Linked DNA regions of Homo sapiens. The protein of the gene in region 3 interacts with the protein of the main gene of each other region in a pairwise test. Each region holds a gene or a part of one and is shown on either strand. Other genes may lie near its edges.

Region 1 (7,139 bases), on a different chromosome or scaffold from region 3:
TTCTCAGAATCACTTAACATGAACGTGTGGTTGGTTCCTGGACTCTCCACTGTGTTGTTGGTCTGTACGTCGGTCCTCATGCCCACACCACACCATCCTGATTGCAGTGGCTTTGTAGTAAGTTTTGAAATCAGGAGACTGAGTCTTCCTCCCGTGTTCCCCCTTTGCAAGCCTGTGGTGGCTCTTCTGAGCCCCTGCAGTTCCGTGTGAGTTTCAGAATCAGCTTATCAGTTCTTCAGGGAGGCCGGCTGAGTCCTGGGATTGTACAGAATGTGCAGATCAGCCCTGGGAGTCTCTGGTCCCGACAGCGCCGGGTCTTCTGATCCGAGACATGGGATGTTTCCTAATCACCTAGATCCCGCCTAGTTTCCTCCCATGCTGTTTTGCTGCCTGTGTGTTTGAAATGGCTCCTCTTGGTGGGGTGGGTGCAGGAGTGGTGCTGTTTGTATAGGACATAGGGCCGTCCTCCCATCCCGACACTCGGCTGCCCTGGAGACGGGCCTCAGCACAGGGCTCCCATTACCCCTGCACTTCCAGCACCTGCTGAAATGTGTGGCGCGCGGGCTCCGAGGCATGGAATGGTGTGCCTGACTCTGCGCTGCCCAGGCTGTGGTCACAGCAGCAGGCTGGAAGTTTGGCTGTCGCCCCCAGCCACCTTGGGGCACGGTCCTGTCTCACCTGGAGCAGAGGTCCTGGGCCCCCAGGGGCTCAGGCGTGGCCTCCTTCTGGAGGGGCCGGGAATGTCCCCTCCACTTGCTGAGTGTTGGCCCAGGAGGCTCCTCTGTGGGATGCCAGCTGCTCCCACCATGAGTGGCAGCTCCACCCCTGTATTCACAGCTGTGCTGAGGGCATCCAGGGCCTGGAAATCATGTCAGATGGACAGACAGGTGTGCGGGTGGATGGACTAAGGGAAGAAAGGAAGGATGGCAGGAACGAACGCGTGGAGGTCAAGAGCCTGGCCCAGAATCACGGTGGGGACGTGAGCGGGTGGGTGGTGCCCAGTCTGCCCCTCCCGTGCTGCCTCTAGGGGCTCTGCCTTCTCCAGGCGTTAGGCAGGGAAAGTCCCCTGAACTTACAGAAAGACGACTAGGTGCCTGGAATGTTGCCATCTGCACAGAGCCCTAGCGCCTGTCCTCCCACTTCCCTCGCCCTCCTGGGAGGTGGGTTCTCCACGCCACCAGTTATGGAGCCCAGGCTTGTTCTCAGCCCTGGTCAGCGGTGCCATCGCAGGTCGCTCCAGCCCCAGCCGCAGGTGCCCAGTGAATGCTCTCCGTGACCCAGGGCCTCCTGCTGCAGGTGGAAGCCGGGCCACGGGAACCTGCGCCGACCTTGGCCTCACACTGTGGCTCCGGGAGAGCAGGACCTGGTGGTGCATGCGTAGCGGCTGAGGAGGACAAGCCTGGGGGCTGGTCCCAGCCCGGACACGGTGGCTTTGCACACACCAAGCCTTCGCCCCCAGCGGGGCCAGCAGTGCAGGGCGCTGCACTGTTGGGGGCCAGAGGGTGACAGGATTGGTGTTTAAGAAGAACTTCTCAGTTTTATCTTTTCTCTGTTTTGATTTGGTTTCCTTCATCTCTACTGGCTTGGGCTTTTGGTCCTTAAATCCTCTAATATACAGAATTGTTTCCTGGACCTCAAGCCCCCCATCAGGGGGGAAACCTCATCCCAGGATGATGGGCCGGTCGTGGGGCACCCTGGCTGGGGGCTGGGGGCTGGGGCTGTGCCTCTGGCTCTCGTTCCTGCCCGTGGAACGTTGAACGTTGCCAGGACATCCACCCCGGGGAACTTGACGTCCTCAGGCACTGCTGGGTCCAACGCCAGCGCTGGGCGCACCACCGCTGACCCCCGACCCCTCCTGCAAGTCCCCCTATCTGCTAAGTAGGAGGATGCTGGGGCCAGGCGAGGCCTTGCTGGGCAGCCTCTAGGATGGTCACTACCTCCTCCCACCTGGAGGTCCCTTCAGGAGGTCCGCGGTGTTGAAGCCTGGGGAGGAAGAGGAGGCTGAGGCCTGGGAGAGGAAGAGGAGGGTGAGGCCTGCGGGGGGAGGAAGAGGAGGGTGAGGCCTGGGGGAGGAGGGTCTCACTGCTCTGGGTCAGAGGAGGGCTGAGTACACGCTGTGCGGCCTGGTTCTTGCCAGGGGTCAGCTGACTACAGCCCCGCCTTCTGTGCAGCCCCTCAACTAAGAACCGTTGTACATTTTTGAAGGGTTGAAGAAAATCAAAAGAAGAATATTTTGGGACACACGCGGGTTATCTGAAATTCAGATTCGTGTTTCCGTGCCCGCAGCTCCGTCAGCGGGGCCCATGCTGGCCTTGTGTGCCCTGCGGCTTTCTGGGTGCAGTTGCAGCGCTACGTGGTTAGGACGGGGGCAGGGTGACTGCACAGCCCCGTGACTGGCTGCTCTCCGCAGGAGGCGGCCCCACCCTCTGCCCACATCCTCCCTGGCTCCTCGAGGCTCCGTAGGATGGTGAAGAGGTTGAGATGCTGTCCAGCCCACAGAGGCCCCGGAAAGCCAGTGCCGCCCGTCAGAGGGGTCTCCTGAGTGCGTGTGGGTGGCTGGATTCTGCATACTGGGTTATCTTAACCCCGGCTGTGAAAACTGGATGAAGTAGCAATCCTTTCAACCCCAAGAGTCTGTGATTCAGCCAGAGTTACAAGATGTCTCTTCATCCTCTGAGGTTTACAAGGTTCTCAGAAAACCTGTGAAGAGCTGCGCGGATCCTCTCCTGCCCCGGCCCAGCGGCAGGGCTGCCGCCTCCCTCTCCCCTGGGCCTGAGTGGGTGGATTTCCCCTCCCCTCCTCCTTCCCAGGAGAAGCACAGAGGGAGCGGCCAAGCGAGCCGTGTCTGCAAACCCCGCTTCCCTCTGCGGCGGCCTCTGCCATCGTGCCATGGGGCCGGAGGTCCCTGGTCCAGGTCAGCATGTCCATCTCCACTGGCCTCTTCCATGAGGGGGGTGGCAGGGCCAGCAGTTAGCTTGTGTGACGTGACGTCAGGGGGATGTCTTAGAGTCCGGGGTGGCACCAGGAGGGGTGAGGTCTCTTCCCTTCTTCCCCATCCTCTCCTCTCTCCCTGTTGGAGGCACATTCTGGGCTCTGGGACCACGATTGCCCATGGCTGATGAGCTCCAGCCCAAGTGAGGTCCCCAGGGTACAGCCCAAGCCAGGCCTCGCCGTCCTTCGGGGACTTGGAGAGCAGTGGCCCACAGCAGCCTGAGCTCTTGGGAGGCTGGAGGCTTACTGCGCCCGGTCTCTTCACCCCGTGGGGTGTGTCCACACCGGCCTCTCCTGAGAGCGTGGGGTGATCTGAACACAGGATGTGTTTCCCTGTTCCCCTCTGGGAGATAGGAGAGTGCGTGGGCAGAAGCCCCAAGGGTGGCAGGAACTCATTGCCAAAGGGGAGGAGGCCATTGCTATGCGTGGTGCTGGCCTGGCTTGCTGGGTCATGTCTGTGCCTGACATGACCCATGTCATGACCATGGTCATGTCTGTGCCTGACATGACCCATGTCATGACCATGGTCATGTCTGTGCCTGAGGGACCGGGTGCCCATCCAGTCTCACTGCCCCACAGCTCACAGCCACAAGCTGCAGAATCTCAGCACTTGGCGGGAGCCCTGGCCCGTGTGTGTGCGTGTGTGTGCGCCGCTGGCTCCAGCCCTGGCCTGTGTGTGTGTGTATGTGTGTGTGTATGTGTGTGCGTGCACCGCTGGCCCCGGCCCTGGCCCATGTGTGCGCGCGCCTCTGGTCCCGGCCCTGGCCCGTGTGTGTGTGCCTCTGGCCCTGGCCCGTGTGTGTGTGTGTGTGTGTGAGCGCCTCTGGTCCTGGCCCTGGCCCGTATGTGTGTGTGCGCCTCTGGTCCCGGCCCTGGCCCGTGTGTGTGTGCGCGCCTCTGGCCCTGGCCCGTGTGTGTGTGCGCGCCTCTGGTCCCGGCTCTGGCCCGTGTGTGTGTGTGTGTGCCTCTGGCCCCAGCCCTGGCCCATGTGTGTGTGTGTGTGTGTGTGTGCGTGTGTGTGCGCCTCTGGTCCCGGCCCTGGCCCGTGTGTGTGCGCCTCTGGTCCCGGTCCTGGCCTGTATGTGTGTGTGTGTGTGTGTGTGTGTGCGCGCCTCTGGCCCCGGCCCTGGACTGTGTCCGTGTGTGTGTGTGTGTGTGTGTGTGTGTGTGCCTCTGGCCCCGGCCCTGGCCCGTGTGTGTGTGTGCGCCTCTGGTCCCAGTCCTGGTCTCTGTGTGCGTGCGTGTGTGTGTGTGTGTGTGTGTGCGTGCGCGCCTCTGGCCCCAGCCCTGGCCCATGTGTGTGCACCTTTTCATATGTTTATCAGCTTTTTGGGTGTCTTTTTGGGAAGTGTCTGCTCACATGTTTTGCAGATTTTTAGAGTGGGTTGTCTGACATGCCCTTGGTTATTTCTGACATGCCCTTGGTTATTTCTGACATGCCCTTGGTTATTTCTGACTTCTTCGTATGTTCTGGATCTGAACCCTTTCTCAGAAATGTGATTTTCAAACAGCACCTCCTGCTCTGTGGGTGCCTTTCCACTGTTTCAGTGGATGAAGTTCTTAATTTCTATAAGGTCAGTTGTACTCTTTTTTTTTTCTTTTACGGCCAGCACTTCCTGAACCCTGTTTGAGTAACCTGTGTCTACTCCCAGGAGACAGAATGTGGTGGAATTGATGTTTGTGTGTGATGTGAGGTCGGGGTCTCAGGTGTGCAGTGACCCTGCACCTCCCTGCCGTGGGCGGCTGTTGTTTGTGTGTGGCGTGAGGTCGGGGTCTCGGGTGCGCAGTAACCCTGCAGCTCCCTGCCGTGGGCGGCTGATGTTTGTGTGTGGCGTGAGGTCGGGGTCTCGGGTGCGCAGTGACCCTGCACCTCCCTGCCGTGGGCGGCTGATGTTTGTGTGTGGCGTGAGGTCGGGGTCTCGGGTGCGCAGTGACCCTGCACCTCCCTGCCGTGGGCGGCTGATGTTTGTGTGTGGCGTGAGGTCGGGGTCTCGGGTGCGCAGTGACCCTGCACCTCCCTGCTGTGGGCGGCTGATGTTTGTGTGTGGCGTGAGGTCGGGGTCTCGGGTGCGCAGTGACCCTGCACCTCCCTGCTGTGGGCGGCTGATGTTTGTGTGTGGCGTGAGGTCGGGGTCTCGGGTGCGCAGTGACCCTGCACCTCCCTGCTGTGGGCGGCTGATGTTTGTGTGTGGCGTGAGGTCGGGGTCTCGGGTGCGCAGTGACCCTGCACCTCCCTGCTGTGGGCGGCTGATGTTTGTGTGTGGCGTGAGGTCGGGGTCTCGGGTGCGCAGTGACCCTGCACCTCCCTGCTGTGGGCGGCTGATGTTTGTGTGTGGCGTGAGGTCGGGGTCTCGGGTGCGCAGTGACCCTGCACCTCCCTGCTGGGGGCGGCTGTCCCCTGCTGTGGGCGGCTGTTCCCTGCTGTGGGCGGCTGTCCCCTGCTGTGGGGGGCTGTCCCTGCTGCAGGGCTGCATGGTGCTTGTTGCTGGGGGTCGGTCACCCACCACAGGTCAGCAGGCTGGGCCTCCAGGCGCACTCCTCCCTCAAGGATGCCACACACATCCCGGCCCTGGGTTTCGTGGGAACATCAGGTTGCGAGGCGCATTCCTGAGCCACCCACGCTGATGCCAGGCTCCCTTGCCTTCCATCTCTGTGTGGTTGACCTTGTTTCTCTTGTGGCACGGGGCACCTTCCAGGCTGGTAGGGAAGAGATGGGAACATGGCCACACGGGCTCCCAGTCTCATCCCAGCCAGGAACCTCAGAGGAGAGGAAGCCTCCCTCCCGGGCACTGAGTGTGGAATTCTGGGAAGCACCGCACTTGGCTGAGCAAAGGCCGCATGTCCCCTCTCACCCTGTTCCTGTGGTTAGGCAGAAGGGACCCAGCAGGTGGCCAGGCCTTGTTCCTGCACCTGTCCACAGGGCACAGGGAAGGAGCCACTCCTTCCAGGAGAGATGGCTGCCAGGCAGGCTCAAGAAGACAAAAGAACTGAGCACTGTGCTGTGTGTGACCCGTGCTGTGTGTCTTCCTGGGCCATGGTGACCCATGCTGTGTGTGACCCGTGCTGCGTGTGTGCCTGGGCCATGGTGACCTGTGCTGTGTGTGTTCCTGCAGGGTGACTATGACCAGAGCAGGACCAAAGTGCTGCACATGAGCCTGAACCCCACCAGTGTGGCCAGGCAGCGCCTGCGCGAGGACCACAGCCAGCTGCAGGCGGAGTGCGAGCGACTGCGCGGGCTCCTGCGCGCCATGGAGAGAGGAGGCACCGTCCCAGCCGACCTTGAGGCTGCCGCCGCGAGTCTGCCATCGTCCAAGGAGGTGGCAGGTAGGCACCCCCCACCCCCGGTCCCTGCCATCCTCGACCTTCCGTGGGTAGGTCCATCCGTGCGCCTTTGGGGCAGCCTCAGGCGCCCCTGCCTGTCATCCCCAGAGGGTTTGTCCTCCCCTGTGGGCAGCCGGGTCTGGTGGTTGCTGGGGCAGAGCACCCTGGCCCCGTGTCCCCATGGCCCCGTGGGGTTGTGCAAACAGGTGGAGCCATCCGAGTCTGCAGGCAGCTGTGGAGAAGCAAGGGGCTGAAATTTCAGGCCCTTAAACTAATTCGTATCATTTGTCAGTTTATATGTACCCCATTAATCACAAGTAAATCCAGTCCTCCACGAAAACAAGTCCATCTCTCACCAGCTTAAGTGTGCTTCATGGCGTCCAGAGAGCCCTTTGAGGCCAAGGCCTGTGGCGTCCCAGGGAAGAATGAGGCCTCCATGAGGGCCAGCAGGGCCTGCCCACACCCTCCAGGTCTACATGAGGCCCACGGCCTTTGGAACGCCAGCCTATCCCCTGATGTGGGGAGGTGGTGCTGGGGTCTGCCCACGCCAAGCCTCGGAGGGTGCTGCCGGGGCTGTGTCGACTCTGCAGGGTGCCCCTGAAGGAGCAGGGCTGGGAGTCCAGAGTCACTGTGCAGTCTGCACCCCCAGCGAGGCTGTGGGGCTCAGGAGACCCCTGCCCCCTGTGTTGCTCTCTGCTGTTGGAGGGAGCTGGGCACTGCCCCACGCTCCTGGTTCTGGGGGGACCTGGGGGAGGGTTCCCTGTCCAGCCCTTAGCAGCAGCCTGGAGCGTGGCCCGGCGTCCCCTTGCTCCTGTGTTAGAGCCACC
Region 2 (7,139 bases), on a different chromosome or scaffold from region 3:
AGAATCACTAGTAGACTCCAAGTTCTCTGTTTCTCCTTCTCCCCAGTTTTAGGATTAGGGTCTATGTATATTCTCTCTGTCTCTGTCTCTACGTCTGTGTCTCTCTCTCTTTCCCTGTCTCTGTGTTTCTTCCAAATTATAAAAGTCAGTAGGATTCCCAGGCGCTGGTTTGGAGGGAGGAGTAAAGGTTGAGGAGGGGGTAAGTGGTAAGTGTCTCCCTCCACTCCCAGGTAAAGGCTTTCCTAGGGCTTGCGGAGACTCTGGGTGAAGTAGAAGTCTCTGTAGGCATAAGTGTGTTAAGGGAAACTATTTTAGGACAGGACCAGGCCTGGGTCAAAATCTAGTTCTCTCTCCCCCCCATCCTCCAAATAAAGGCCGGGTTGTTCGTCTTGAGGAGGGGATTGCCCCCCGCAGCAGCAGCGGCACCTGGAGGAGGAAAAGGGGGGTACCCAACCGTGTGTTCCCACAGCCCCTCCCTCCATGGTCCCTACAGGCGCTTCTCTGTGCAGCGCTGCGCCCGCTGCCACCTGGGCATCTCGGCCTCGGAGATGGTGATGCGCGCTCGGGACTTGGTTTATCACCTCAACTGCTTCACGTGCACCACGTGTAACAAGATGCTGACCACGGGCGACCACTTCGGCATGAAGGACAGCCTGGTCTACTGCCGCTTGCACTTCGAGGCGCTGCTGCAGGGCGAGTACCCCGCACACTTCAACCATGCCGACGTGGCAGCGGCGGCCGCTGCAGCCGCGGCGGCCAAGAGCGCGGGGCTGGGCGCAGCAGGGGCCAACCCTCTGGGTCTTCCCTACTACAATGGCGTGGGCACTGTGCAGAAGGGGCGGCCGAGGAAACGTAAGAGCCCGGGCCCCGGTGCGGATCTGGCGGCCTACAACGCTGGTGAGTGCGCGGCGCACGAAGCGCCCCCATAGGGTTGGGGGAAAGTGTGCGGCCTCGACGGCCGGGAGCTGGATTGAATCTCTGTGTGCTGGGCAAATAGCGAGCCTTAAGCACCGGACGGCCTCGCAGAAGGGACATTAGCCCCCTGGGCTTCCAGACTGTGCGTCCTCGGCTGGAGCGGGAGGAGAGGGTGCAGTGGTCCCTTGCTGCTCCGGGTGCAGGGCCTTGTCTCTGATAAATTGTTTTTTTGGAGATGGCTTTTTGGTTTGGGCCTTTGCCCCACTTTGCTAGGCAGGAAGTGGCAGGGATGGAGAAAGCAAGGCGGCGCTGACGCCAAACAGGTTTTGGGTTGGCGCGGCTGAGGGCCGGGAACTGGGGCAGCGAAGGAACGAGGCAGGGCGGCGAGGGTCCCAAGAGAAAGGGCTGGCTGTGGCCCGGGGCGCCGAGCTCGGCCTGGAGTGCGGCCTGACCTCGTGAAATGTCCCAAGGGCGGCAGGCTTGGGGAACTCGGGCTTGGGGAACTCAGGAAAGCAAAGGCTGCGGTTCCTTTTGCTCGGCCCGATCCTCCTTTAAAGACAGGTCTCAGTTTTCCCGGACTTTTTCCTCCGAGTTTCCTGGCGCCTGCTGGGGTGAGGGCCGTGACCCTCGGAAGCGAGCCCCCCGGGCGGGGACGAGACCGGAGCAGGCCTGGCCTCGCGCCGGGGTGGGGTGGGGTGGGGTGAGGTGGGGGGCTTGGTTCGGATTTCCGGCATCTTTGAACCCCAGGCCATTCCCGGAGAAGCTCTGCCCCCTCCCGCGCCCCTCCCTGCTCAGGACAGCTGCAGAGGTTCTGAGTTCCGGCAAATGAGCCGTCAACATCTGCCCGAAGTCTGCAAGGCCCGGAAAGGTTTATGACTCTCCGGGCTTCCGAACTAGAGTTTATGTGCAATTATTTTCTTTCTTTCGTTTGCAACAGAATTAGATTTGGAGATTTTGTGTTCTTCTTCCTTTTCCCTTTAGTCTAATGCACAAGCAGAAAAAAGCAAAAACAAAAACAAACCCAAGACTGTGCAGAGGGTGCTACGGCGGGAAGAAGTCAGTTATTTTCATCTTAAAGAATCTGAGTTGAATAGAGAGGGAAATGAGGGGCGGGTGTTCGCTCCAACGAAATCGCTTGGAGGATCATGGGGCGTGTGTCCCTGTGTGCGGAACTGGGAGGAAAACGCAGCCCCCAGTTTGGTAAATGGTGAAGCAGCGGTAGGCCGGTCGGTGGCGCGGATTTAAGATTTGCTGAAGGCACTACCACAGATGTAGCTCTCTGGAACTTCCATCCCTCCTCTCCTACCACCCCCCAAAAAAAGACAAAACCGAGTTCAGACCGGCTCCCCCAACACCAAGCCGCTTCTATTTATCAAGTGGGTCAACTTCCACTCGGAAGCACCTCGCGGGGCTCGGCTCCAGGGCACCTGGTGGCTGGGGAGCTGTATTGTTTTCCTGGGCACGGAGGTTCGGCGCCGGTTTTAGGATTGTGCAAAAAGAGAGTAGAAGGTACAGAGATTTATTTCTGCTTTTTGCTGTTCAGCCGCCGTTTGCCCCAGCGAGGTGGGCTGGAGGCTGAATTTCAAGCCTTGTTTAACCTCTACAAGAGACACCCTCCATTCAGCCATCTCACTTTCTCTCTGGCCTCCCTCTCTCTTTTTTTCCTTTCCGTTCTCTCCGTCCTTTCTCTCTATCTCTGTCTCTGTGTGTGTCGTGTTTGTTCCCGTGCCCTCCTCTCCGACCTTGGCCGGGGCTCCTAGTCCTGAGAGAAACGGCGTTCGGTGCGCCGGCGGTGGCTATGCGGCTGGCTCTTTCGGGGCTCCCGGGACTAGGTTGGGGAAAGAGGGCATCTCCCCGGCCTCTCGGGGCCCAGCCCAGTCTTCCTAGATCTGGCGTCCGCCCTTCCCTCCCCTCCCGCACTGGCAGGAGAGAAATGGCCGCAGTGTGGGCCGCGGGGCAGCTAGGACTGGAAAGCGGGGACCCTGGAGGGTGCGATCGCGGACGGGGTGTGCGGGCGCGGGTCGTGTGCGTGTGCGTGCAGGGTTCCGACCACGGGGACACGAGCTTGTTTGTGGCAGTGTCCCACATCCTGTGGCCCAGCCACGACGACCCCTTGCAAAGCCTCTTGCTCTGGGGACAGTCCCTCCGAGGCGCGGCGGCACCTTACTGAAGGGCGGCGAGCTGGGGGCCGAGTGGGGAGGGGGCGCCGTCGGGGCGCCGGGCGCTGGGCTTACAGCAGAGCCGCGGGCCGCGGGGTCGGAAAGTCCTTCCGGGGCGGGGCCGCAGCGGCCTCTTCCCGCAGCCCCTCGGGCCCGGGCCCCGGTGGAACGGAAACCTCCCCCTACCCCGGGAGGGGCTGCCAGCGGGCTGGGGGTGCGAAAACGGCGGCAGGAGCGGGCGAGGGGCCCGGGCCGCGCACTTTGCGCCTGGGTTTGCGCGCCGCGGCCGCGGGAGTCCCGCGCGGACCGGCCGGACGCCCGGCCTCCCCCAGCCCCAGCTTTTTGTGTGTGTGTGCCTGGCGGCGTAATTACTGATTTGATTCCAATCCATTATTTAGACAATTGAACCTACAATCTCGTCTTTAGTAAAATGAGGCGAAGTCAGATTTGATTACAGGTTCAGTCCCAGCGACAAGAGCTCGAAACCCGATGGGTTAATAACAGATCACGAGTAAATTATTCATGATTTTACGAGCTCTTTAGCTCCATTGAATCGGCCTAATTGAGAGGAAAAAAAAAAAAAAGGAGAGAGAAAGCCCGGGTCCTCCCCCTCCCCTCGGCCCCTCGCTCCTCCCCGGATCCGATCCTGGGGAATCTCGACCCGCCCCCGGGCACTGGGGGCGGGAGTGAGGGGGTTCGGGGCGCCGGCCAAACCTGGGCCCCACGGCTGCCTCCCCCGCCGCCGCCCCCTGCCCTTGCCTCTGGCCGGCCTCGGCCTCGCTACTTAGGGCCGGCTCCTTTCCCTTTTTCTCCACTCCCCTTCTTTCCCCTTTTCTCTACTCCCCCGCCAATAACGGCTTCGGAAAAGGCCTCCCCCGCAGGGACCGGGTCTCCCGGAGCCCCGGGATTCAGCTCGGCCACCGGACCCTCGCCACAAGCTGCGCCTGTTTCCGGGACTCGCTTTCCCCTCCGCTCTCCCTATTTCTTGCTGTCTTTGTAGCTGTCTCTCTGTGGTTCTCCTGGCTCCTTCGCTTTCTTTTCCTCTGTCTGTCCTCTCTTTTTCCTGGCTCTGTCCATCTTCCGTCCCTACCCCCTCTCTCTTTCTCTCCCTCCATTCTGCCTTTCTGTGTTTGTCTTTTTCTCTCCTTTCTCTGCCCTTTCTGTCCCCCTCCCCCGCACTACTACCCCACCTAGGCGGCACTCAGGGCAGGTCCCTTGGGCCCATGGGGGCGCCGGGGTCCCCACGGAGCTCATTAACAGCAGCCAGGCCCAGGCGGGGGCTCGGTGGAGGGATGGGCCCAAAGATACCCCGTAGGGAGGCTGCCCCACCCCCAGTGGAGCTGGGGACTGGGGGAAAGAAAAGGGTTGCTCACCTCAGCGGGTTCCAAGCAGTTCTGGTGGATCAGGTTCAGAGGCATCCTCTGATCCCCTTTAAATTGCCGGACCCGCGCTCTTCACTCTGGGCGTGCTCTCTGTGGGAATGCAGCCCCGGGGGTGAGGGGACCTGAGTGCCGGTGGAAAGAGGCCCCTAGGAGGTGTAGCCCCTAGCTAACAGCTCCAAAGGCAGGGGCAAGACTTGTATCTTGCAAATTCTCTCTGCAAGGGGCTCTTCCCCATCTGGGCAGGGGAAGGGGGAGGTCACCAGCAGAGTAAAAGTCCTTTGGAGGTAGTGTGGCCAGGCAAAATGCAGCATCCCCAGTTAAATTGGAATTTTGGGTACGTAACAAATACATTTTTAGTGTAAGTGTCCCCGGCAATATTTGCATTTTGGAAAAATAACGAATAAATTTGAAATTTGTAGTATAAGTGTCCCGTGTAATATTTGAATTTTAGATAAATGACAATTTTTTAGCATAGCTGTGTCACCTGTAGTATTTGAATTTCAGGTAAACAACAAATACATTTTTAGTATAGGTATGTCCCATGCAATATTTAGGACATGCTTATACTAAAAAATTACTTATTATTTTTCTGAAATTTATATTTAACTGGGCAACCTGTATTTTCATTTGCTAAATCTAGAGCTCTGTTACGGGTATGTGATGAGGGCACAAGATACCTTCTCAGTTCTCACTTTAGGCGGACCGAATGTACACCCCTTATGAGGCTTACCCCAAGGCAAGACCTTAAGTGTGGCATGGCTCGGGAGGTGCCATGAGGAGGCGACCTTGGGAGGGGTCCTGCAGGTCCCCATCAGCTTCCAGGTGGCTGAGCAATTTTCTGAGGCCCAGGTTTTCACCCATATTCCCCACCCCCAATGCCAGCCAGGCATTGGCAGCGTGGCCCCCATGAGGCTCCTTGTGGTTAGGGACAGGCTCCCTCCTCCCTTCGTGGTGTAGTGGAAGAAAACAAGGAGTACTCCAGTGCTAAATCTAGGCTCAACAGATCAAGATCAATCTAGCTGGTTACCGGTGGTGTGGCAGTGTGCAAGTGGCTTCATTTCCCTTAGCGTTAGTTTCCACATCTCTAAAATGGGAATAGTCATAGCCACCTCTCTGAGAGGTAATGATGTACAGTGACATTTGTAAAGCCAAACACACACCATAGGTGTCTACTACATGTTTATTTCTGCCTCGGACTTCCTTCCCCGTCCACTCTGCCGCTCTCTGTGGACTGCCGCAGATCTCTGAACTTCCCCGAGCCTAATTTGCTCCACTTGTTCACGGAGAAACAATCATCTTACAGGGTAGCGATGAGGATTAAACTGCAAAATGCAGTTTCCAACCTTTGGCCCAGTGCCCAAGGCCCAGGGGTCCCTCAGTACTTTTGGGTGTGGCAAAATGAACATGAATCTCTGTTTCAGCAGTTTCTAGGTGCCGGTCCCAGACACGGTAGGGGGAGACGGCAGAAAGCACTCCTCCTTAGAGTGCCTTGGAAAACAGGAGGAGGGCAGGCCCAGAGACCCTGTCCTGCTGTGTCCAAAGTCAAGTGACTTCCCTTGCTGAGCCTCAGTTTCAACATCTGTAAAAACGGGAAAAATAATACCTGGTGCTCCTAGGATTGTTTTAAGTACCTAAAGAAAATGTGCCTGGAAAGCCCTTTAACACATCACCTGGAGTTCAATCGGCCATCAACAAGTCGTAGCTGTTGTTGCTGCTGCTGCTGCTGCTGCTACTATTGTTCTTATTGTAACATAATGGCTCAGAATGATTTTTGGATTCTCCCAGAGCCGGGATTCAGTGCTGCAGTTCTTAGCAGTGTGATCCTGGGTGGATCGCTGTCTCTGAGCCTCAGTGTTTCCATCTATAAAATGGGGATGATGTCCCCCTTTCATTGTGGCGCAGACATGCAGCAGGGTTAAGGATTGAAATGTTTGGCAGTGGGTGGGGCGAGTGTGGATTTGGCATGGGGGGCGGGTCAGGAAGTTCACCCACCGGCTCTGTGTCTCCTCCCTAGCGCTAAGCTGCAACGAAAACGACGCAGAGCACCTGGACCGTGACCAGCCATACCCGAGCAGCCAGAAGACCAAGCGCATGCGCACGTCCTTCAAGCACCACCAGCTTCGGACCATGAAGTCTTACTTTGCCATTAACCACAACCCCGACGCCAAGGACTTGAAGCAGCTCGCGCAAAAGACGGGCCTCACCAAGCGGGTCCTCCAGGTCAGCCAGGGCCAGGGGTGAGGGCATCTGCGACCACCAGGGACTGGGGTGGAACCCTGCACCCCTCGCCGTGGGCCTTGGAAGGACCTTCCACCCTGTGTCTGCTTCTCTGTGTGTTTAATCTTTCTCATTCTCTTTCTTCACCTCTCCAGCCTGTCCCCATCTGTATTTCAGTCTTTTTTTTCTTACTTTGTCTTTTCTCTTTTTCAGTTTTTGCCTCTCTGTTTTTCTGTTTGCGTATCGCTCCATCCTCATTGTCTCCACACTCGGTCTCTTTTCTTTCTTCTAAACAATTCTTAGTTTCTGTTTATTATTCAAGTGACACTCATTTTACACACATTCACATCATAAAAGGTTCAAACATTTCAGATAAATCTAGAGGCCGCCCCACCCCATCCCAGGACGTACACCCAAGGTGACTATCATTAGCTCCTGCTTCTTGCTTCTTACCCACTCTAGTTTC
Region 3 (7,771 bases):
CATACACACGGGAGTCCCACACATTATGAGACTCCAAAGGGTCAGATGGTTGGAGCTCATATAGTATCCTGAGCTACAGAAAGGAATAGGGCTTAGGGCTTCAAGAGGATGGTGGCAACGTAAGTTGTGGGAGGGTGAAAGTACGAACGTATGGTGAATAAAGGTCATCTTGTTATGTAGATAAAGTCACCCAGAAAATAAAAGTTGTCTGGAGCAGCCCTCTTCATGATGCAGATACTGTATTAGATTTCCTTTATAGATATACATTTCTTTTACAAAAGGACAGCTTTTCCAGCTGCAGTTTCTTAGAATAATCAGCTCAAAATATGCCAAAGAAGTATATTTTGGGGTGCCATATTCTAGCCTCCTACAGTTACATTTTGGGGTAGTGTATCCTGAGCCTCAACTGGGGACAATTTGTGCCTTCCCTTCCAAGAGGGGCATTTGTCAATATCTAAAGACATTTTTGGTTGTCACACTAGGAGGGGGAAGTGCTATTTGCATCTAGTGCTCAACGTCTTCTAACACATCAGACAGCCCCCCACAAAAAAGGGTTTCCTAGCCTAAAATGTCACTACTGTGAGGAGAAACCCTGCTTTAGAAAATGTGTATATACACACCGATAGAAAATGAGTGGTCTGTAAGTTCAAGTTGGGCCTTGGGATCATGGCCCATAGGAGGCCTCAGATGGCAGGCATGGTGGAAGGGATGGAGGCACGTGCCTCTCTGGACCAAGGCACAGACGAAAGGCAGCCTCTGGGAGCAGGGGTTCAGTTCAGCTGGTTGCCACACCAGAGAGAAGAGTGGGATTAGAATTCAGGCCACAAACAGAGCTGCAGTGTGGTCTTCGAAGACTTGTTGTTGTAGTTCTGCAGCAGTTGCTGCTATGCATATGCTTAGGGATATGCCACCTCCTTCAGAAAGTGGCCTTAATCCTCCAAATGGGAGTGAATCTCCCCACATCAGTGCTCAGGCTGTGGGTCTGAGGCCTTTATTATCTTACCCACTAATACATCCTGCCATTATGTCCCAGAGTAGACGGTAAGTTTCCTGAGGATGAGACTCATGCATTTTCACCTATCTCCATAGTACCACGGCATGTAGCAATACTGATAAAATAGTTGCTGAATTGTCATCAATATTTATTCTTCCTCCCAATATTAGAAATTCCATGTGCATACATTTGAACAAAACATATAAAATGTTAAGGTAAAAAGGAAGTAATCTACTATTTTCTTCTGGAAAAATCATTTAGCAAAGCCCATCTTCAAAGATTTGTTTGTACTTTTTTTCAAAGCTAATAATCTGTTTGACTGCCTTCCCCACTTCTTTAACGTTTTTAGTAGTTTCCAGTGGTAACATGGTTCATCTTGAAATTTAACTACTGCATTTCATAAATGGGTCCCAATTTGGTTAATGTTTTTACACACAAATACCTATAATCAAAGCATGGAGCAAATTTTGCCTATTCTTTGCTATACAACTCAAAAAAGAATTTTTTAAGCTCTATAATTCATTAGTTTGCTAATGGCTTTTCCCCATAAGAGATAGTTTGACCCTGCTCAACTTTTAGTTACAGCAAAAAAACTCATTCAGGCTTTCTCTCTGCTCTTCATATTCAAAATAAACCATTCTATAGACTGAGAAGGAATCAAGCACTTTTGGAATAAAAGGCAATTTTCCATGATAAAACATTCTGAGCACGTTTAGTACCTTCCTATTCTTTACATTCCTAAAATGTAAGAAACTCATCTCCAGCAATCCAAATATCTTAAACTCCACTTACAAAACAAATCAAAGGGTTATTCTTCGCCCTACAAAAGCACTTATCAAAAGATTCAACCCAAGATTATTTTCATTCAGCAGCACCTACTCTCAAACCCATTTCAATTTAGATAGTATTTACACAGCTTTTCATGAACCAGAGCTTTCTAAGAGCTAAGAGGGAATGATGAATGAGTTCTGCCCCTTAATTCTGCAAGTGAGGAAACTGAGGCTCAGAAGACCATATGAACTCTCCAAGCTGCAGGATAACAGCTGGGACTTATCAAGGGCCCAGGGCTTCTCACATCTTCACCACTTCCACCATGTCAAGGCCACCATCACGTCTTGTTTGGAATGCTATAGGAATCTCCTAGGTCCCATTTTTACCCTCCCTCCTATCATCCACCCTCTCTCCAAAGGCCACTCCATACAGCAGCATGTGGATGAATCTACAATAGAAGGCAAACTATGTCCCTCCTTTGCTCAGAAACTTTTAATATCTTCCTATTTCCCCATGTAAAAGCCAATCCTCAACCACAGTGTAGAAGGGCTATCCATTTCTAGCTACACATCTCCTCAGTCACTGCCCCCAGCCCCAGTACTTGGGGACTTTGCCCTTGCAGTTCCCTGTGCCAGCAAACTCTTCCTCCAGATGTCCACATGACTCACCCCCCTCCTTCAGGGGTCTTCTCAAATGTCACTTTACCAGAGGTGGCTTCCCTGACCATCCTGTATAAATAGCATCACCCTACCTCCTATCTCTCTCTCTACTGGCTTTTTAATTATTTTTATTATTATTGAGACAGGTTCTCACTCTGTCACCCAAGCTGCAGTAGAGTGGTGAGATCACAGCTCACTGCAGCCTTGACCTCCTGGCTTCAAGTGATCCTCCCACCTCAGCCTCCCAAGTAGCTGGGACTACAGGTGCACACCACCACACCCAGCTAATTTTTTTTTTTATTTTTGTAGAGACAGAGTCTCTCTGTGTTGCCCAGGCCTGTCTCAAACTCTTGGCCTCAAGTGATCCTCTTGCCTCAGCCTCCTATATTGCTGGGATTATAGGCATGAGCCACCGCACCTGGCCTTATTACTTTTTCCTAACACTTTTGTCACCCGACATATTTTGTTTATTGATTTCCTTTGCCCACTAGAATGTAAGCTCAGCAAAAAAGTAGCCTGCTGGATCCCCAGTGCCTGGTATACAGCAGGCACTCAGTATTTTGGTATAATAAGTGCTTACTATGTCCCCAATACTGTTTTAAGGAAGGTATTTACTTAATCTTCCCAATAACCTGAGATAGGCATTATTATCATCATTGTCATCTCTGAGTCACAGATGAAGAAACTAAGGCACAGAGAAGTTTAGTAATTTTTCCAAGATCACACAGCTAGTGAATAGTAGAGCCAGGATTTGAACGCGAGACACCGGCTCTTTAACCACCATCACATGTAGTGTCACCCTTATTGTGTCACTCAGTTAATGATAAAGAACTACTGCACTTTAATGCTTCTTCTCTATACCAGACTCTCAGAAATTGATACATACTAAAGTATGCTTTCAAATGTCAATCATTTCCTATAAGTGCCTAACATTTTAAAGTAATAAAGTGTGATTTTGAGCTAAGACTGGTAAACAAAGTGTGCTGCAGCCACAAGCGTACTGCGCTTTAGCCTCTATCTAGTTCAAGAACCACTTCCAGAGGATATGAGTGAGGCTTACAGGCGTGTGCAGGTAATTCTCCCTGCTCAACTGAGATTACCATCATTAGCTCTGGTCCATAAAGGGAAAACTAAGACACAAAAGCCACATTGATGTTCTAGGCCACACAGCCAATTGCAGTGACTAGAAGAAAGAAGCCTCCCCGGGCGGCGAAGGTTGCAGTGAGCTGAGATCGCGCCACTGCACTCCAGCCTGGGCCACAGAGGGAGACTCCGTCTCAATTTAAAAAAAAAAAAAAAAAAAAAAAAAGGAGCCTCTGAGGGGCCCTCTGGGACTGCAGTAGGTCACACATGCTCCCTGCTTATTAGCATAGAACGCCCCGGTGATTCATGCAATGGAATGTTTCAGCCAAGGATGTCACCTAATAGAGGATATGTTGATACAGCTTTATCTGAGAAGTTACATAATCGTCCTAGTGTGGAAATGCCATAAAGGAATTTCTGGCTTGAATAAAAGAGGTGTGTATCCCCTGGGAAGTACTCCACAAAGGGTATGAGGAGATTTTCAGTGAGAAGCTGACTACCCCAGACTGGGCAAGTGACTTGTTAAAAACAGGGCTCAATGGAGGCTCTCTGAGGACAGTGACTGCGCCCACTTTGATTTGGTAAGGCTTTGACTCCTGCTCGAGAGAGTCCAGGGACCCCTAGACCTGCCTGTCCTTCCACAGGGAAGAGCGACCTTTCTGTATCTAGCCTCCTGGGATAGAAAGGTCCCTACCTTGAGTCCTCTCTGCTTCGTTCTTTCAGGTCACACATTTATTTCTGCAAGCCTTCAGACCTTCCATTCTCTTTCTGCCCTAGAGAGCAGAATGAATCCTTCCCCCGATTTTGTTGGAATTCTCTGAAAGAAATCCTGCCAAGTCTCCCACTCTGGAATACCACCCCCAGCACCCAATCTTCCCTCGACCTCGCCTCCCATCGCCCCACCAGCGCCCAGGACGTGGCAGGAGGAAGGAGGCTGGAGGGAGGGGCGCGGGTGGCACGAGCACCTGTCACCTGACCGGCTCGGGCCCTCACTTCTCCAGCCCCGGCCCTGCCCACCCTCTGGCCGGTGAGAGCCGACAGGGCCCCCGCCCTCCCGGACCCGGACAGGCCCGTCCCTCCCGCCCCGGCCTCCGCCACCGTCCAATGGCCGAGGGGCAGGGCCCGCTGAGCAAGCCGCGGCAGCCCCGCCGGGTCCCCGCCCTGTTCCCGGTTCCCGAGCCGGGCCCCGGAGGCCTTTAAATGCTGCCCAGGGCCGACGCGGCACGGCCCTCGCCACTTTTCTTGGTCGGGCAGCGGCAGCGGCAGCGGCAGCAAGCAGCCCCGTCGGCCCGGGTCCGGGGCCGTTCTGGGCCGCGGCAAGCACCTTCGCCCTCCCAGCTCGCGCTGCCTCCCTCCCCTCCCCTCCTCCCAGGCTCTGCCTGCCAGGTCGGCGCCGGGCCCCGGGCGCGCGCGCGCGCGCCCCCTCGTGTGTGCGCGCGCCCGCCGCCAGCTCGGACCCGCGCCCCCGCCCCCGCCCCGCGCAGGACAGCCCCGGGATCCCCGCCCGCGCGCCGCGTCCCACGTACCCCGCCGCGCCGGGCAAGAAGATGGCGGGATCAGTGGCCGACAGCGATGCCGTGGTGGTGAGTGTGGCAGGGCGCGCGCGAGGCGCCCCTCCCCGCCGTCCCGCACTCCGCCGCCGCCTGCTCCAGCAGTGCTGGGGTGCTGAGCAGCCGCAGGCCCGGCCGGCGCCCGGCGCGTGGGAAGGCGCCCGGTACCTGTTAGCAGCCGCTGGCTGCGCGCGGCCGGTGTTAGGGGCTGGAGAGGCTCCCGGGCTGCGGGGCTCTGGGCTGGGGAGGGAGTTTGGGGAGGATGGCGGGTAGGGACGCCCGACAGCCCCCTCTGTGCCGTGCAACCGCCAGCCAGGTGTGCGCGTGGGTGAGTGTGTCCGGGGCGCGCGCCCCGCCACCGCCCCCGACGTACCGGGGATTCCCCCTTGGAAATGGGTCGGCGCCCGGGGCTCCCGAGAGAAGTTGAGCACGGCCGCTGCACTTCAGTCACGTCCCGAAGGACAGGCCTGGCCCACCGCGCTTCCAGAAGCGTTTACGGTTGGAGAGGGGCCTGCCCTCCTCCGGCGTGGGGCTCTGGCTCTTCGGTGGACCTCGACCTTGATTTTGATCTGGATCTGAAGGGTCTGCGGATCTTCAGAGGCTTAACTACCGGGTGGAAAGGATGGGTTTTGTTCGGGGGTGATGAGATTATCTAAGAGACGGTGAAGAGGCATCATCTGCAGACACTGTGTGCATGTGGAAGGCTGCTGGATTCCACCACATCTGTGTGGGTTCTTCCTCCAGCCCCCCAAAAAAGAGCCCATGGAAAGCCAATCTGTGTACTTCTATTTTTAGAAACTAGATGATGGCCATTTAAACAACTCTTTGAGCTCTCCAGTTCAAGCGGACGTGTACTTCCCACGACTGGTAAATGATTTTGCTCTGTGTCTCTGCCTGTACCTTCCTCCTTTCTCATTGCTTTTTAAAATTTTATTCATTTGTTTATTGCATTTTCCAGTGGGTCAGGCCTTCAGGGTCTGAGGTCTTGGCTTTTCCCTAACAGGCTGTAAAATTCATTTTTCTTCTCCCACCCTTTTCAGATAGTTCCATTTTGTGGGCACATTAAAGGTGGCATGAGACCAGGCAAGAAGGTGTTAGTGATGGGCATCGTAGACCTCAACCCAGAGAGGTAAGGCAGAGTCTTTGTCAGGACAGAACTATCAGGCTGTGGCTGAGCCCTGCCCACTTCTGTTGTGGTTTAGCACTCCTCTTCCTCTCCTTGTGGACAGTGTTGCTAGTTGCCAGTGCCAAGAAAGTACCATGTTCCCATGAAACGAATATGTATGAATCCCAGCCATCATTTCTCCAGACAGCTATTTATATCAGAGATTATAAATATAGGCCCACATTTTCTCTTTGACCCTTAGGGAGGCCAGAGGATTTTTTTTTTTTTTTTTAATGGTTTTGAAACATGGTGCCAGGAGCAAGAACTATCAAGATGAATAAGAACCCAACTTAACATTATTTCCCCTGGTCAATTTCTGTGGCTGTTTTTGAGAATTCCGAAGTGGAATTCTCTAATTTTAGTCATTTTCAACACCAAAGTTTTCACCAGAGCTTGCTTTAGGTAACAAAATAAGCTGGTTTGACTTACTTCTCCATAATCTAACCTCTCTTGAAGAGTAGTGGCCTCTTAAAAATGGACAAACCCAGAGGAGGAAGAAGAAATATAAGCACTTGGGTCATTTTGAAATGTTTTTATATCCAACCCTTAATCAGTGGGATGATTTTCTTTTCAGCTTTGCAATCAGCTTGACCTGTGGGGACTCAGAAGACCCTCCTGCCGATGTGGCAATCGAACTCAAAGCTGTGTTCACAGATCGGCAGCTACTCAGAAATTCTTGTATATCTGGGGAGAGGGGTGAAGAACAGTCAGCAATCCCTTACTTTCCATTCATTCCAGACCAGCCATTCAGGGTGAGTACCTCGAGTGCCTCGGCTCCAGCCACTGGCAGGCTGATAATGTTCGACTTACCTAGTGTGTGCCAAGAACACTTGAAGCAGCCAGAATTTCTGCATGTCCAGGAAATTTGTCACCCAATGGTGAAAAAAAAAGATCAAAAGAGCTCTGTTTGCTGATATAAATTAACACTTGCCATAGTATCTTCTTAGTTCTATTCAGGTCATACATTTAAATAGACCCATATTTACATGTCCAAATTGTTAAGAATAAGTAACTTTTCTATGTAGTACCCAACATATAGTAGATACCTACCCCCAAATATCTGATTGATTAATCAATACTAAGTACCCACTTATTAAATATTAATATTAATAAGGTTGAGAGCTAATAAGTAGCTCTTTTATTTGTATGACATTTTAAAGAATATGATGATGATCATTTCATTTTCTCTTGTTCCCTTTGCTAATGAGGCCATGTTCGTGTCCTTGTTTCCCCCTCTGGATTAATTAGCCTCAGTCTATTTCATGGTTACAGGCTGTGTGGCTGACAAATTCCTTCCCTTGGGGCTGGATGAATAAAGATTTGCTCCCCACTATCTTCTGGGCAGGAAGCACAATCCAAACTTTTCATCCAATCAAGCAGCATTAGCAGCCCCTTCCTCTATGAAAGGCAATGCCAAATAAGAGATGCAGGTAGTGGCACAGTGGCTTGTGCCTATAATCCCACCACTTTGGGAGGCTGAGGCAAGAGGATTGCTTGAGCAAAGGAGTTCAAGACCAGCCTAGGAAACACAGCAAAAACCCTGCCTTTA

What was found.
Region 1: the proteins of LGALSL (region 3) and MAD1L1 interact in binary tests that used the Homo sapiens proteins (3 or more experiments, as listed by UniProt).
Region 2: the proteins of LGALSL (region 3) and LHX2 interact in binary tests that used the Homo sapiens proteins (3 or more experiments, as listed by UniProt).

The regions. Positions count from the first base shown.
Region 1 is NC_000007.14:1,935,863-1,943,001, reverse strand, and holds part of MAD1L1 (mitotic spindle assembly checkpoint protein MAD1), read left to right. Parts: intron 1-2,430; exon of another isoform or gene 2,431-2,914; intron 2,915-6,104; coding exon 6,105-6,315; intron 6,316-7,139. UniProt on the Homo sapiens protein: Component of the spindle-assembly checkpoint that prevents the onset of anaphase until all chromosomes are properly aligned at the metaphase plate.
Region 2 is NC_000009.12:124,014,629-124,021,767, forward strand, and holds part of LHX2 (LIM/homeobox protein Lhx2), read left to right. Parts: intron 1-493; coding exon 494-897; intron 898-6,470; coding exon 6,471-6,676; intron 6,677-7,139. UniProt on the Homo sapiens protein: Acts as a transcriptional activator. Stimulates the promoter of the alpha-glycoprotein gene. Transcriptional regulatory protein involved in the control of cell differentiation in developing lymphoid and neural cell types.
Region 3 is NC_000002.12:64,449,492-64,457,262, forward strand, and holds the start of LGALSL (galectin-related protein), read left to right. Parts: upstream 1-4,670; 5' UTR 4,671-5,054; coding exon 5,055-5,090; exon of another isoform or gene 5,091-5,387; intron 5,388-5,852; coding exon 5,853-5,924; intron 5,925-6,097; coding exon 6,098-6,186; intron 6,187-6,796; coding exon 6,797-6,974; intron 6,975-7,771. UniProt on the Homo sapiens protein: Does not bind lactose, and may not bind carbohydrates.